Homo sapiens: one gene and its partner. The protein of the gene in region 2 purifies or fractionates together with the protein of the main gene of each other region. This does not show direct contact. Each region holds a gene or a part of one and is shown on either strand. Other genes may lie near its edges.

Region 1 (3,907 bases), on a different chromosome or scaffold from region 2:
ATATCAAGAATAAACAGGCGAGTGTGGAATCTGCGGAGGGAGGGGATTGTCTCTGGTTCCCGAAATCACGGCAAAGTACTTTCTGTGCAGGGAGGGCACAGTTTAAGAATATCTGTTGCAAAGAAAATACAGACACAAGGTAAACCAAAAACCAAAGCAAAGTTTCCCCATGACATTACCTGGAAACTACAGTCTCAGAACTACAGATTAACAAACGTAATCAATGGTACTGGGCTTTTCACAGTTTTGATGACGACAGCATGACTTCAGAGTCTAATGGGACACTATTCCCAAAGTTCTAGTTAACGTCGCAAAAATCTGACCTAATTCTTACAGGTTCAAATGTCTGGGCTGCTGGTTTGTGTAACCTGGACAAAATCGCTTCCAGGCTCTCAATTTTGCCACGAGTCACGATGACAGAGGGCTCTCCTGGCTTTTCTCACAGGCCTGAGTCCCATCTGGATTGAAGTCATTTTGCAAATAGCAGCCCACCACCCTTAGGCCAAATTTAAAATTTGTTTTGAATTTGCACCTTTCTGGTTGTGTTAAAGATTACAGATTACATGAACAAGGGCCTCCATGCCTTCGCTATCTAATTGATTTCTACAGTGTTGTTTCTTTACTGTCTTGCTCGCCCCACTCAAAGTCTCCCTCCTACACACCAGCCTACACACTTTCAGTTCTATTTTATAACCCGACAAATGCAAATTGACACACAGAGACAAATAACAACGCGGTTTGCTGAAGCAGGTTCAATCGACTGTATTGCCAATTAAAAGACCACCGGGTAAACAAGGGCCAACGACCACAGGGCAGGCCCCAGGGTTCACAAGCCCCCCCACCCCACGGCCCAGAAAGAGCTCGCCGCAGCGCCCACCTCTGCAACTCCTCCTCCTGGATCCTCTCCTCGTCCCAAACGAAGACGCCGGCTAACGCCGCCATCAAGGCAGAGGCATGGCCAGGACGGCCGTGCAGCCGGCGCCAGAGGCGGCCGAGGAGAACGCGGCGTGAGCTCTCGGAGTAGAGGCGGCCGTAGAGCTGCGCGATCTGCTGCGCGCGCCGCACGCGCAGGCCCGTGACGAAGCGGCACTGATTGGCCAGAAGCGCCAGCAGGCCCCCGCCCCGCGTCCCCGCCAGCCAGGCGGCCAGCAGCCTCCGCGGGAGCATGCCGCCTCCCGCAGGGCCCGCCGCGAGCTTCCGGGGCCCAAGGAACCAGTCCGGAGGGGCGCAGGCGGTGGTCGCAGCGTCCCCCTAAATGGCCGGCCACGAACCCGTCTCACGGTCCCGCGGCCAGGAGCCGCCGCTCATCTGTCTCTGCAGCCACCGCTGAGGAAGAGTCTCCTCTGAGGGGAGAGTCGGTCATGGCAGCAGACGCCGGGATGGCTCCGCGACTGCTACACCAGGCACTCCTGGGCCCGGGCAGCAGACCAGTCAGCCCTGTGGCTCCTCGGCGACCTCCAGCGGGCGCCCGGGGCCGGGATGCAGGGCGCGCGGACAGAAACGAGACAGACAGCTCAGGCCCAGCAGCACGCAAGCTCCCGCGCCTTCCGCGACTGCCACACGCGCGGCGCGCGCGCACCCTACTTTTTCTCCGCCACCTGGGCCGTGATTGGGCGCGACCTGGGCTCCTGGGTGCTCATTGGCGCCGTGAAGTGCTCGTCACCGCCCCCTCCTGCCCCTTCATGCATGCGCGGAGGCCGCCTGCTAGCAAGGTAGGTGGCTCGGCGGCGAGAGCCGTCAAGGGCGCATTGGAGAGTGACCCTCGGACCCGGCTGCCGCCGTCGCCGCCATCTTCCGGCCGTCCCAGCCCCGCCCCGCGGAGAAACCTGGCCAGGTTCCTGTTAGAATCCTGCCAGGTGTTAACTTGTTTTAAGAGGCCGGCACGCTGGCCCCCTTCTTTATTAGAGTGCAGGGTGGGGGCGGGGCTCCGCATGTCTCTGCGGGGGCTGGGGGCTCCCAGTGATAACCGCCATTGCAGAATTAAAACTGAGACAGTGAAAGAGATCTGACCTAACCAATTCCATCTTGCTTCTGTCCTTGTTCATTCCTGAGCTTAGGTGAACTAATTTTGGGAGGAACTTAGTTTATAGTTTAAAATAAAGAGGATAACAGCCCTTTCCCAAAACAAATCTTCTTATCTGGGAACTAGACTGCCTTTGTAGGACTAATAAGTTAGCCATAAGATTGGAAATTATGGTTTAGGAGTCATGCAGCTGGAGGCTACGATATTGTGATCCCCCTAAACTGCTCTTAAGATCAGTGCTTGAGATATTTTGCTGACCCCGCACTGGTTGGATCCTGGCACCACCCAGATGGATAAACTGGCTCATCTGACCTTGTGGCCCCCACCCAGGAACCAACTCAGTGCAAGAGGACAGCTTCAATTCCCTATTATTTCATCTCGACCCAACCAGTCAACACTCTGGACTCACTGGCCTTCCCCCACCCACCAAATTATCCTTAAACACTCTGATCCCGGAATGCTAAGGGAGACTGATTGAGTAATGTTGAAACAAACTCCAGTCTCATAGTGGGCTCTGCGTGAATTACTCTTTATTGCAGTTCCCCTGTCTTGATAAATCGGCTCTGTCTAGGCAGTGGGCAAGGTGAACCCATTGTACGGTTACAAATTTGGGGGTTCGTCTGGGATACCCCTTGTGGCTACCTGTCCATGGTTCGGTAGCCCCACCTCTGGTGACAGATCCAGAGGCCAGCCTAAGCGGCCACATAGTTCTCTTGGACTAGGGGCTAACTCTGGCACCGTCTCTGCCAGTGGGGCACTGCTAGCCCAATATGCATGGACTTAATCGCAATGGAGAAATAGTCCTGGGGAGACATCCCATAACTGTAGCCCTGTCACAGGGTATCTGTAGCTCCATAGCGGGGCGCTGTAGCCAGGTCATGGAGTGTCTGTAGCTATAGCCCCATCATGGGGTGGCAGGTTGCTGAGTATCCTAGGTGCTGCCAGTGCCTCCTTCCTTCTCCGGACTGATTCTGTAGCCACATGGTGGGTGTCTGTAGCTCCACCATGGGGTGTCTGTCTCAGTTTGGCTCCTGGGGCATCCCAGTTGGCTGTCCCTAACTAGGAAGAGTCTTGGTTCGGGAGACTTCTCAATCAGGAATATTTCAGGGAGATTTGTCAGATGGAGAATAGGAGGATAGTTTGGAAGGGGTACTCTTGGAGTTCTTGGTTAGGGACCTTAATTTGGAAGGCCTTCTGTCTGTCTTGTCTTCGTGTGTGTGTTTGTATATATGGAGGGGATCTCTGAAGGAATTGCTGATGAAAATCCAGCAGGCCTAACTTGGAGAACACTCCTTATTTATCTAGTCACATTCAGTGAGCCCTGAAAGAAGTTTAACAGGCCTGATTCAGGGTGACTGCTCAGAGACCACCCATTGAATTCACGATTCAATGACCCACCGTGCCTGGCCTTAAAAGGATTTTTTCTTAGAAAAAAGAGCTCTAGGCCGGGCATGGTGGCTCACACTTTTAATCCCAGCACTTTGGGAGGCCAAGGCGGGCGGATCACGAGGTCAGAAGATCCAGACCATCCTGGCTAACACGGTGAAACCTCGTCTCTACTAAAAATACAAAAAATTAGCCGGGCGTGGTAGTGGGCACCTGTAATCCTAGCTACTCGGGAGGCTGAGGCAGGAGAATGGCGTGAACCCGGGAGGTGGAGCTTGCAGCAGTGAGCCGAGATCGCGCCACTACACTCCACCCTGGGCGACAGAGCGAGACTCCGTCTCAAAAAAAAAAAAAACAAAGTTGACTTATAGAGCCAATAAGCCAAAAAATTGACTTATAGAGCCCCTTGGGAAATCTGGCCTCATACTATGTCAACACAGTCCCTGTACGAGGTTCCTGACCTGTGGTAAGTAAAGAATGTCACTTTCTAACAGGCTC
Region 2 (3,907 bases):
CATAACAGATTCCAGCTTCCCTCCCTCCGGCTCTAAGCAGAAAGGAAAGAACTGGTAAGAGAATTAGGTAGAGGGACACAGAGATAATCTAGGGTGGCGAAGAGGGGAGAAAGAGAAGAGATGGAACATGCAAAGGCCAGGAGCGAAGCGGGAGACCACCCAGGAGACAGAAGGAGGGCAGAGGCTGGGAGAAGAACAGGAACAGACAGGATGGGGTCCTGATTGTTGGAAAAGACAGGGAGGCCAATCCCAGCCTTGCAAATAGCAGCAGCTAGAGGTTATTTCCAGAAAAATCTGCAAAGTAAATACACTGATCACCCAACTCCCATATCTCTTTGCTGCTCTCTGTGGAAGACTCAGACAAACCCCAAGAATGAATGGCCACGGGGCCAGGGCAATGGTGGAAAGGGAGGGGCCTCACCTGGCCTTGGGCCAAACAGCAAGGTGGCCTCTGCCCAGCCAGGTGAGGTGTTTGCCACCCACCCCCTGACCAGGTCTGTCTTGTCACCACACAAATAGCCCAGACACCACAGCTGGATGTTGTCACAACATCCCCAGGTGGAAAGAGCCTGGGGCAGAGAATGTTCCAGACCCAGGAGGGGTCTACTTCCAGCACCACATTGGCACCAACCTCCTTTGCCCACCCTGGCCCCAGTGGGCATTCCCCTCACATCCAACAAACTCCAGTCCCCGGCAGTGGTGGCTCCTCTCCCGCCACGCTTCTTCTCATTGCTAATGCGGGACTCTTGTTCAGACAGGGACGGGCTCTGCCCTGTCTCTGGCCAATGGCAGCATTATCACTGGCCCAGGCAGTCCAGCCCAGCAGAGCCAGGTCAAGGATCAGTCATGTTGACTGACCTGCAACCCCTCAAAGTGGCCTGAAGCAAAACCACAGGCGCCGTTTTCTCTTTCGTTCAAATGCAGTTCTTTTCCAACATTGCCTGCAATGAGCTTTGGTGCAGAGATTTGGGGACAGGGAGGCACATGGAGAAAAAAAAAAAAAAAAAAAGACCAGGCAATTGCACAAAGCCTTTCCCTGGAAAACCCAGGCTCTGGGGATGGTGGGGGTCAGGACACATGGCTGCCCCCCCTCCAGCCCTGGAGCTCCGGCTTTGATGGTCGAGGCACAGATGGGGATTCATCCCATTCCCCACATACGAGAGCAGTCTGGGAGCGGGAGATCGGCTGGGTGTGTGTATATATGTATGTATGTGCATATAGATAGATCTATTTATATATAATAGGCTATATTAGAAAATCCTCTCTATGTATAAATATAAAACACTGGTATCCAAACATGACACCAACAGCTAACTAAAGTGCTTGACAGGAGCCGGGCCCGGGTAAGCTCGATGGTAAACCGCTCATCCTGGGCGCTGGGGAAGCAAAACAATGGGGGACCCCTTCAGCAGGGGGTGCTGCAGGAGGAAAGTGTGTGCTGGCCAAGCTGGGCCACCAAGAGCACTTGGGCCACCTGGGCCTTCTGGGTCTCAGGACTGTCTGGTCACTGCCCCATCAACACTGTGCCTCATCTTTCCCCTACCTTCCCCACTGCGCTCCCGTCCATGAGGAGCACAGCGCTGGCGAGCTAGGCCCAGGGAAGAGCTGTTCCACAGGGGACTGATCATTTGAAAAAAATCCCTCCCCCTCAACCATCACTCCTCCAGGTCAGGCCCTGCCCGCACTCCTCCTGGGCTTCCTGCCTGGGTGGGGGTGGGACGAGGGAGGGGAGAGAGGCTTTGTGGAATCTGAGGGCAGCCACCTTTCACCTGTAGGCCCCAAGCAAAGCATTAGCACCTCCACCATCCCCAAGGCCCATAGAAATGCCCACAGGCAAGTGGTCACCAGAGCTCTAGGGAGCAGAGGGGCCCCAGAAGGCAGGGAAGAGGCCCCCCAAAAACACAGTGCTACAAGAAGGGGTTGGTGGTTGGAGGTTTGGAGGCGAATGGGCTTGATGAGGGTCCAGTCTGGAAAGAAAGAACAATACATTTTCCAGTTAGGGGAGAGGAACTGGAAGCTTAGAAGAAAGGCAGCCAGGAGTCCTTTCTCCTGAAAAATCGCTATGCTGAGGGCAGTGGGAAAGTGAGGGAGAAAAGGCCAGGCACGGTAGCTCATGCCTGTAATCCCAGCCCTTTGGCAGGCCAAGGTGGGCTGATCACCTGAGGTCAGGAGTTCAAGACCAGCCTGGCCAACACGGGAAAACCCTATCTCTACTAAAAATACAAAAATTAGCCATGTGCGGTGGTGCACACCTGTAGTCCCTGCTACTTGGGAGGCTGAGGCAGGAGAATTGCTTGAACTCAGGAGGTAGAGGTTGCGGTGAGCTGAGATTGGGCCTGGGAGACAGAGTGAGGCTGTCTCAAAAAAAAAAAAAAAAGGAAAGTGAGGGAGAAGGGAGCCAAGGGCAGGGCTGGAACAGCATGGGAGATGCCAGTGCCCAGAAGAGCTGAGGCCCAAGCTCAGCCCTGGCTTGGACAACGCAGACCTTCACGAGGAAGGGGCACAGGGGCCACCTCACATCAGCCTCTTCTGGAAGGATTGTCCCAGAGGGAAAGCCCACGAGCCCTACCACAGCACCCCTGCTGGCACACTCACCATGAAGGGGTTGGTGGAGATCCCAGCTGGCTGGCTCAGTGGCCTCTGCCCCAACTTGGCTGATCCTAAGTCCCCGAAGGAAGAGCCTAGGGGGCGAGAGCAGTCACTCAGCTGACACCAGCCTGCCTTCCTGCAGGCGGACAGCAAGGGGGGCCCTCCTAAACTGGGGGAGTAAGGGAACAGAGCAGTGGAAGTACCCGGGCGGGTCTGGTGCTTCCCTGGTCCCCCCTGCTGGTCAGAAAGGGCACTGCATGGGCTCTGATGAGGTCGGAGGAACAACTAACTGATCTCTATGCAGAGATGGGATGGGGTGAAAGGGTTTGTCCATCTACAGCTCTTACCATTCTGCTGCTGAACAAGCGGGGTCTGCGGGGGGAACAGCGGTGCTGGGAAGGAGCTGGCAAAGGCCCCAGTGGGTGGCACTGCCTGGGGGAAGCCAGGCCCAGCACTGCTCATCCCAAAGCCGGGCCCTATGGAGTGAAAGACGGGAGGCTCAGGTGAACTTCTGGAAGGTGGGCTGGAGAACTGTTTTTCCTAAGTCCCTCCAAGATGGGAAAATGGGATATAGTTTTTTCCTGACATGAGGAACGAGGGACCCAGCCATGGAACTCTTCTGCTTCTCACACCACCAAACAACCCTGCCCTCTCCCTGCCCGGGGGTACGTGGCAGGGAGGGCATGGTAGTTCCAGGCACGGGCGCGGTGCAGGACTGGGCTAGCCTCCCACTAAACTGCAAAAACAGCACAAACTTCTAACGCTGTCTGTGCTTCAGTTCTCATCTCTAAAATGGGGACAGTCCGTCTCATAGGGCTACTGTGAAGATCAAATCAGGGCCACGAAGCCCTCAGCACTGGGCCCACCACACAGCTCTTCTGTGTTTGCTCTTATTCCTCTCTCCCCAGCCTCAAGGCTTCAGCCAGCATGAGTCTGAGGGGAGAGCAGCAGAGGCTGGGGAGGGCCAGGGTGAGAGAAGACAACAGGCCTGGAGTTGATGGAAGCAGGGAACAGCGTGAGTGTTTCAGGTGGCTTAAGCTTCGGGACACAGAAGGGACTGGGGCTGGGTGCCCAAAGGGACACTGCTGAGGGCTGGAGACAGGAGAATCGCTGCCACTGTCAGTCAACTCTAAAACAGTCTTCAGTGCGGTCTCCGGTAAGTAGCCACCTGTGTGCTTCTAATTCTAAAATCTGGCTCTGTGACCTGGGTGCTAGGTGGCCTGGCACCGTGTGGGCAGGGGAAGAACCAGGCTGTCTGCTTCTCCTGACAGCGTGAGACAAAGGGTTAAGGGAGAGGCTGCAGGGTAATGTGTGCCTT

The links.
Region 1: the proteins of AGFG2 (region 2) and STARD7 purify together in Homo sapiens (affinity purification with mass spectrometry; 2 studies listed by BioGRID and IntAct, with this or other methods). This does not show direct contact.

The regions. Positions count from the first base shown.
Region 1 is NC_000002.12:96,207,268-96,211,174, forward strand, and holds the start of STARD7 (stAR-related lipid transfer protein 7, mitochondrial isoform 1 precursor), read right to left. Parts: upstream 1,561-3,907; 5' UTR 1,168-1,560; coding exon 878-1,167; intron 1-877. UniProt on the Homo sapiens protein: May play a protective role in mucosal tissues by preventing exaggerated allergic responses.
Region 2 is NC_000007.14:100,562,992-100,566,898, reverse strand, and holds part of AGFG2 (arf-GAP domain and FG repeat-containing protein 2), read right to left. Parts: intron 3,066-3,907; coding exon 2,937-3,065; intron 2,682-2,936; coding exon 2,596-2,681; intron 1,968-2,595; coding exon 1,908-1,967; 3' UTR 1-1,907.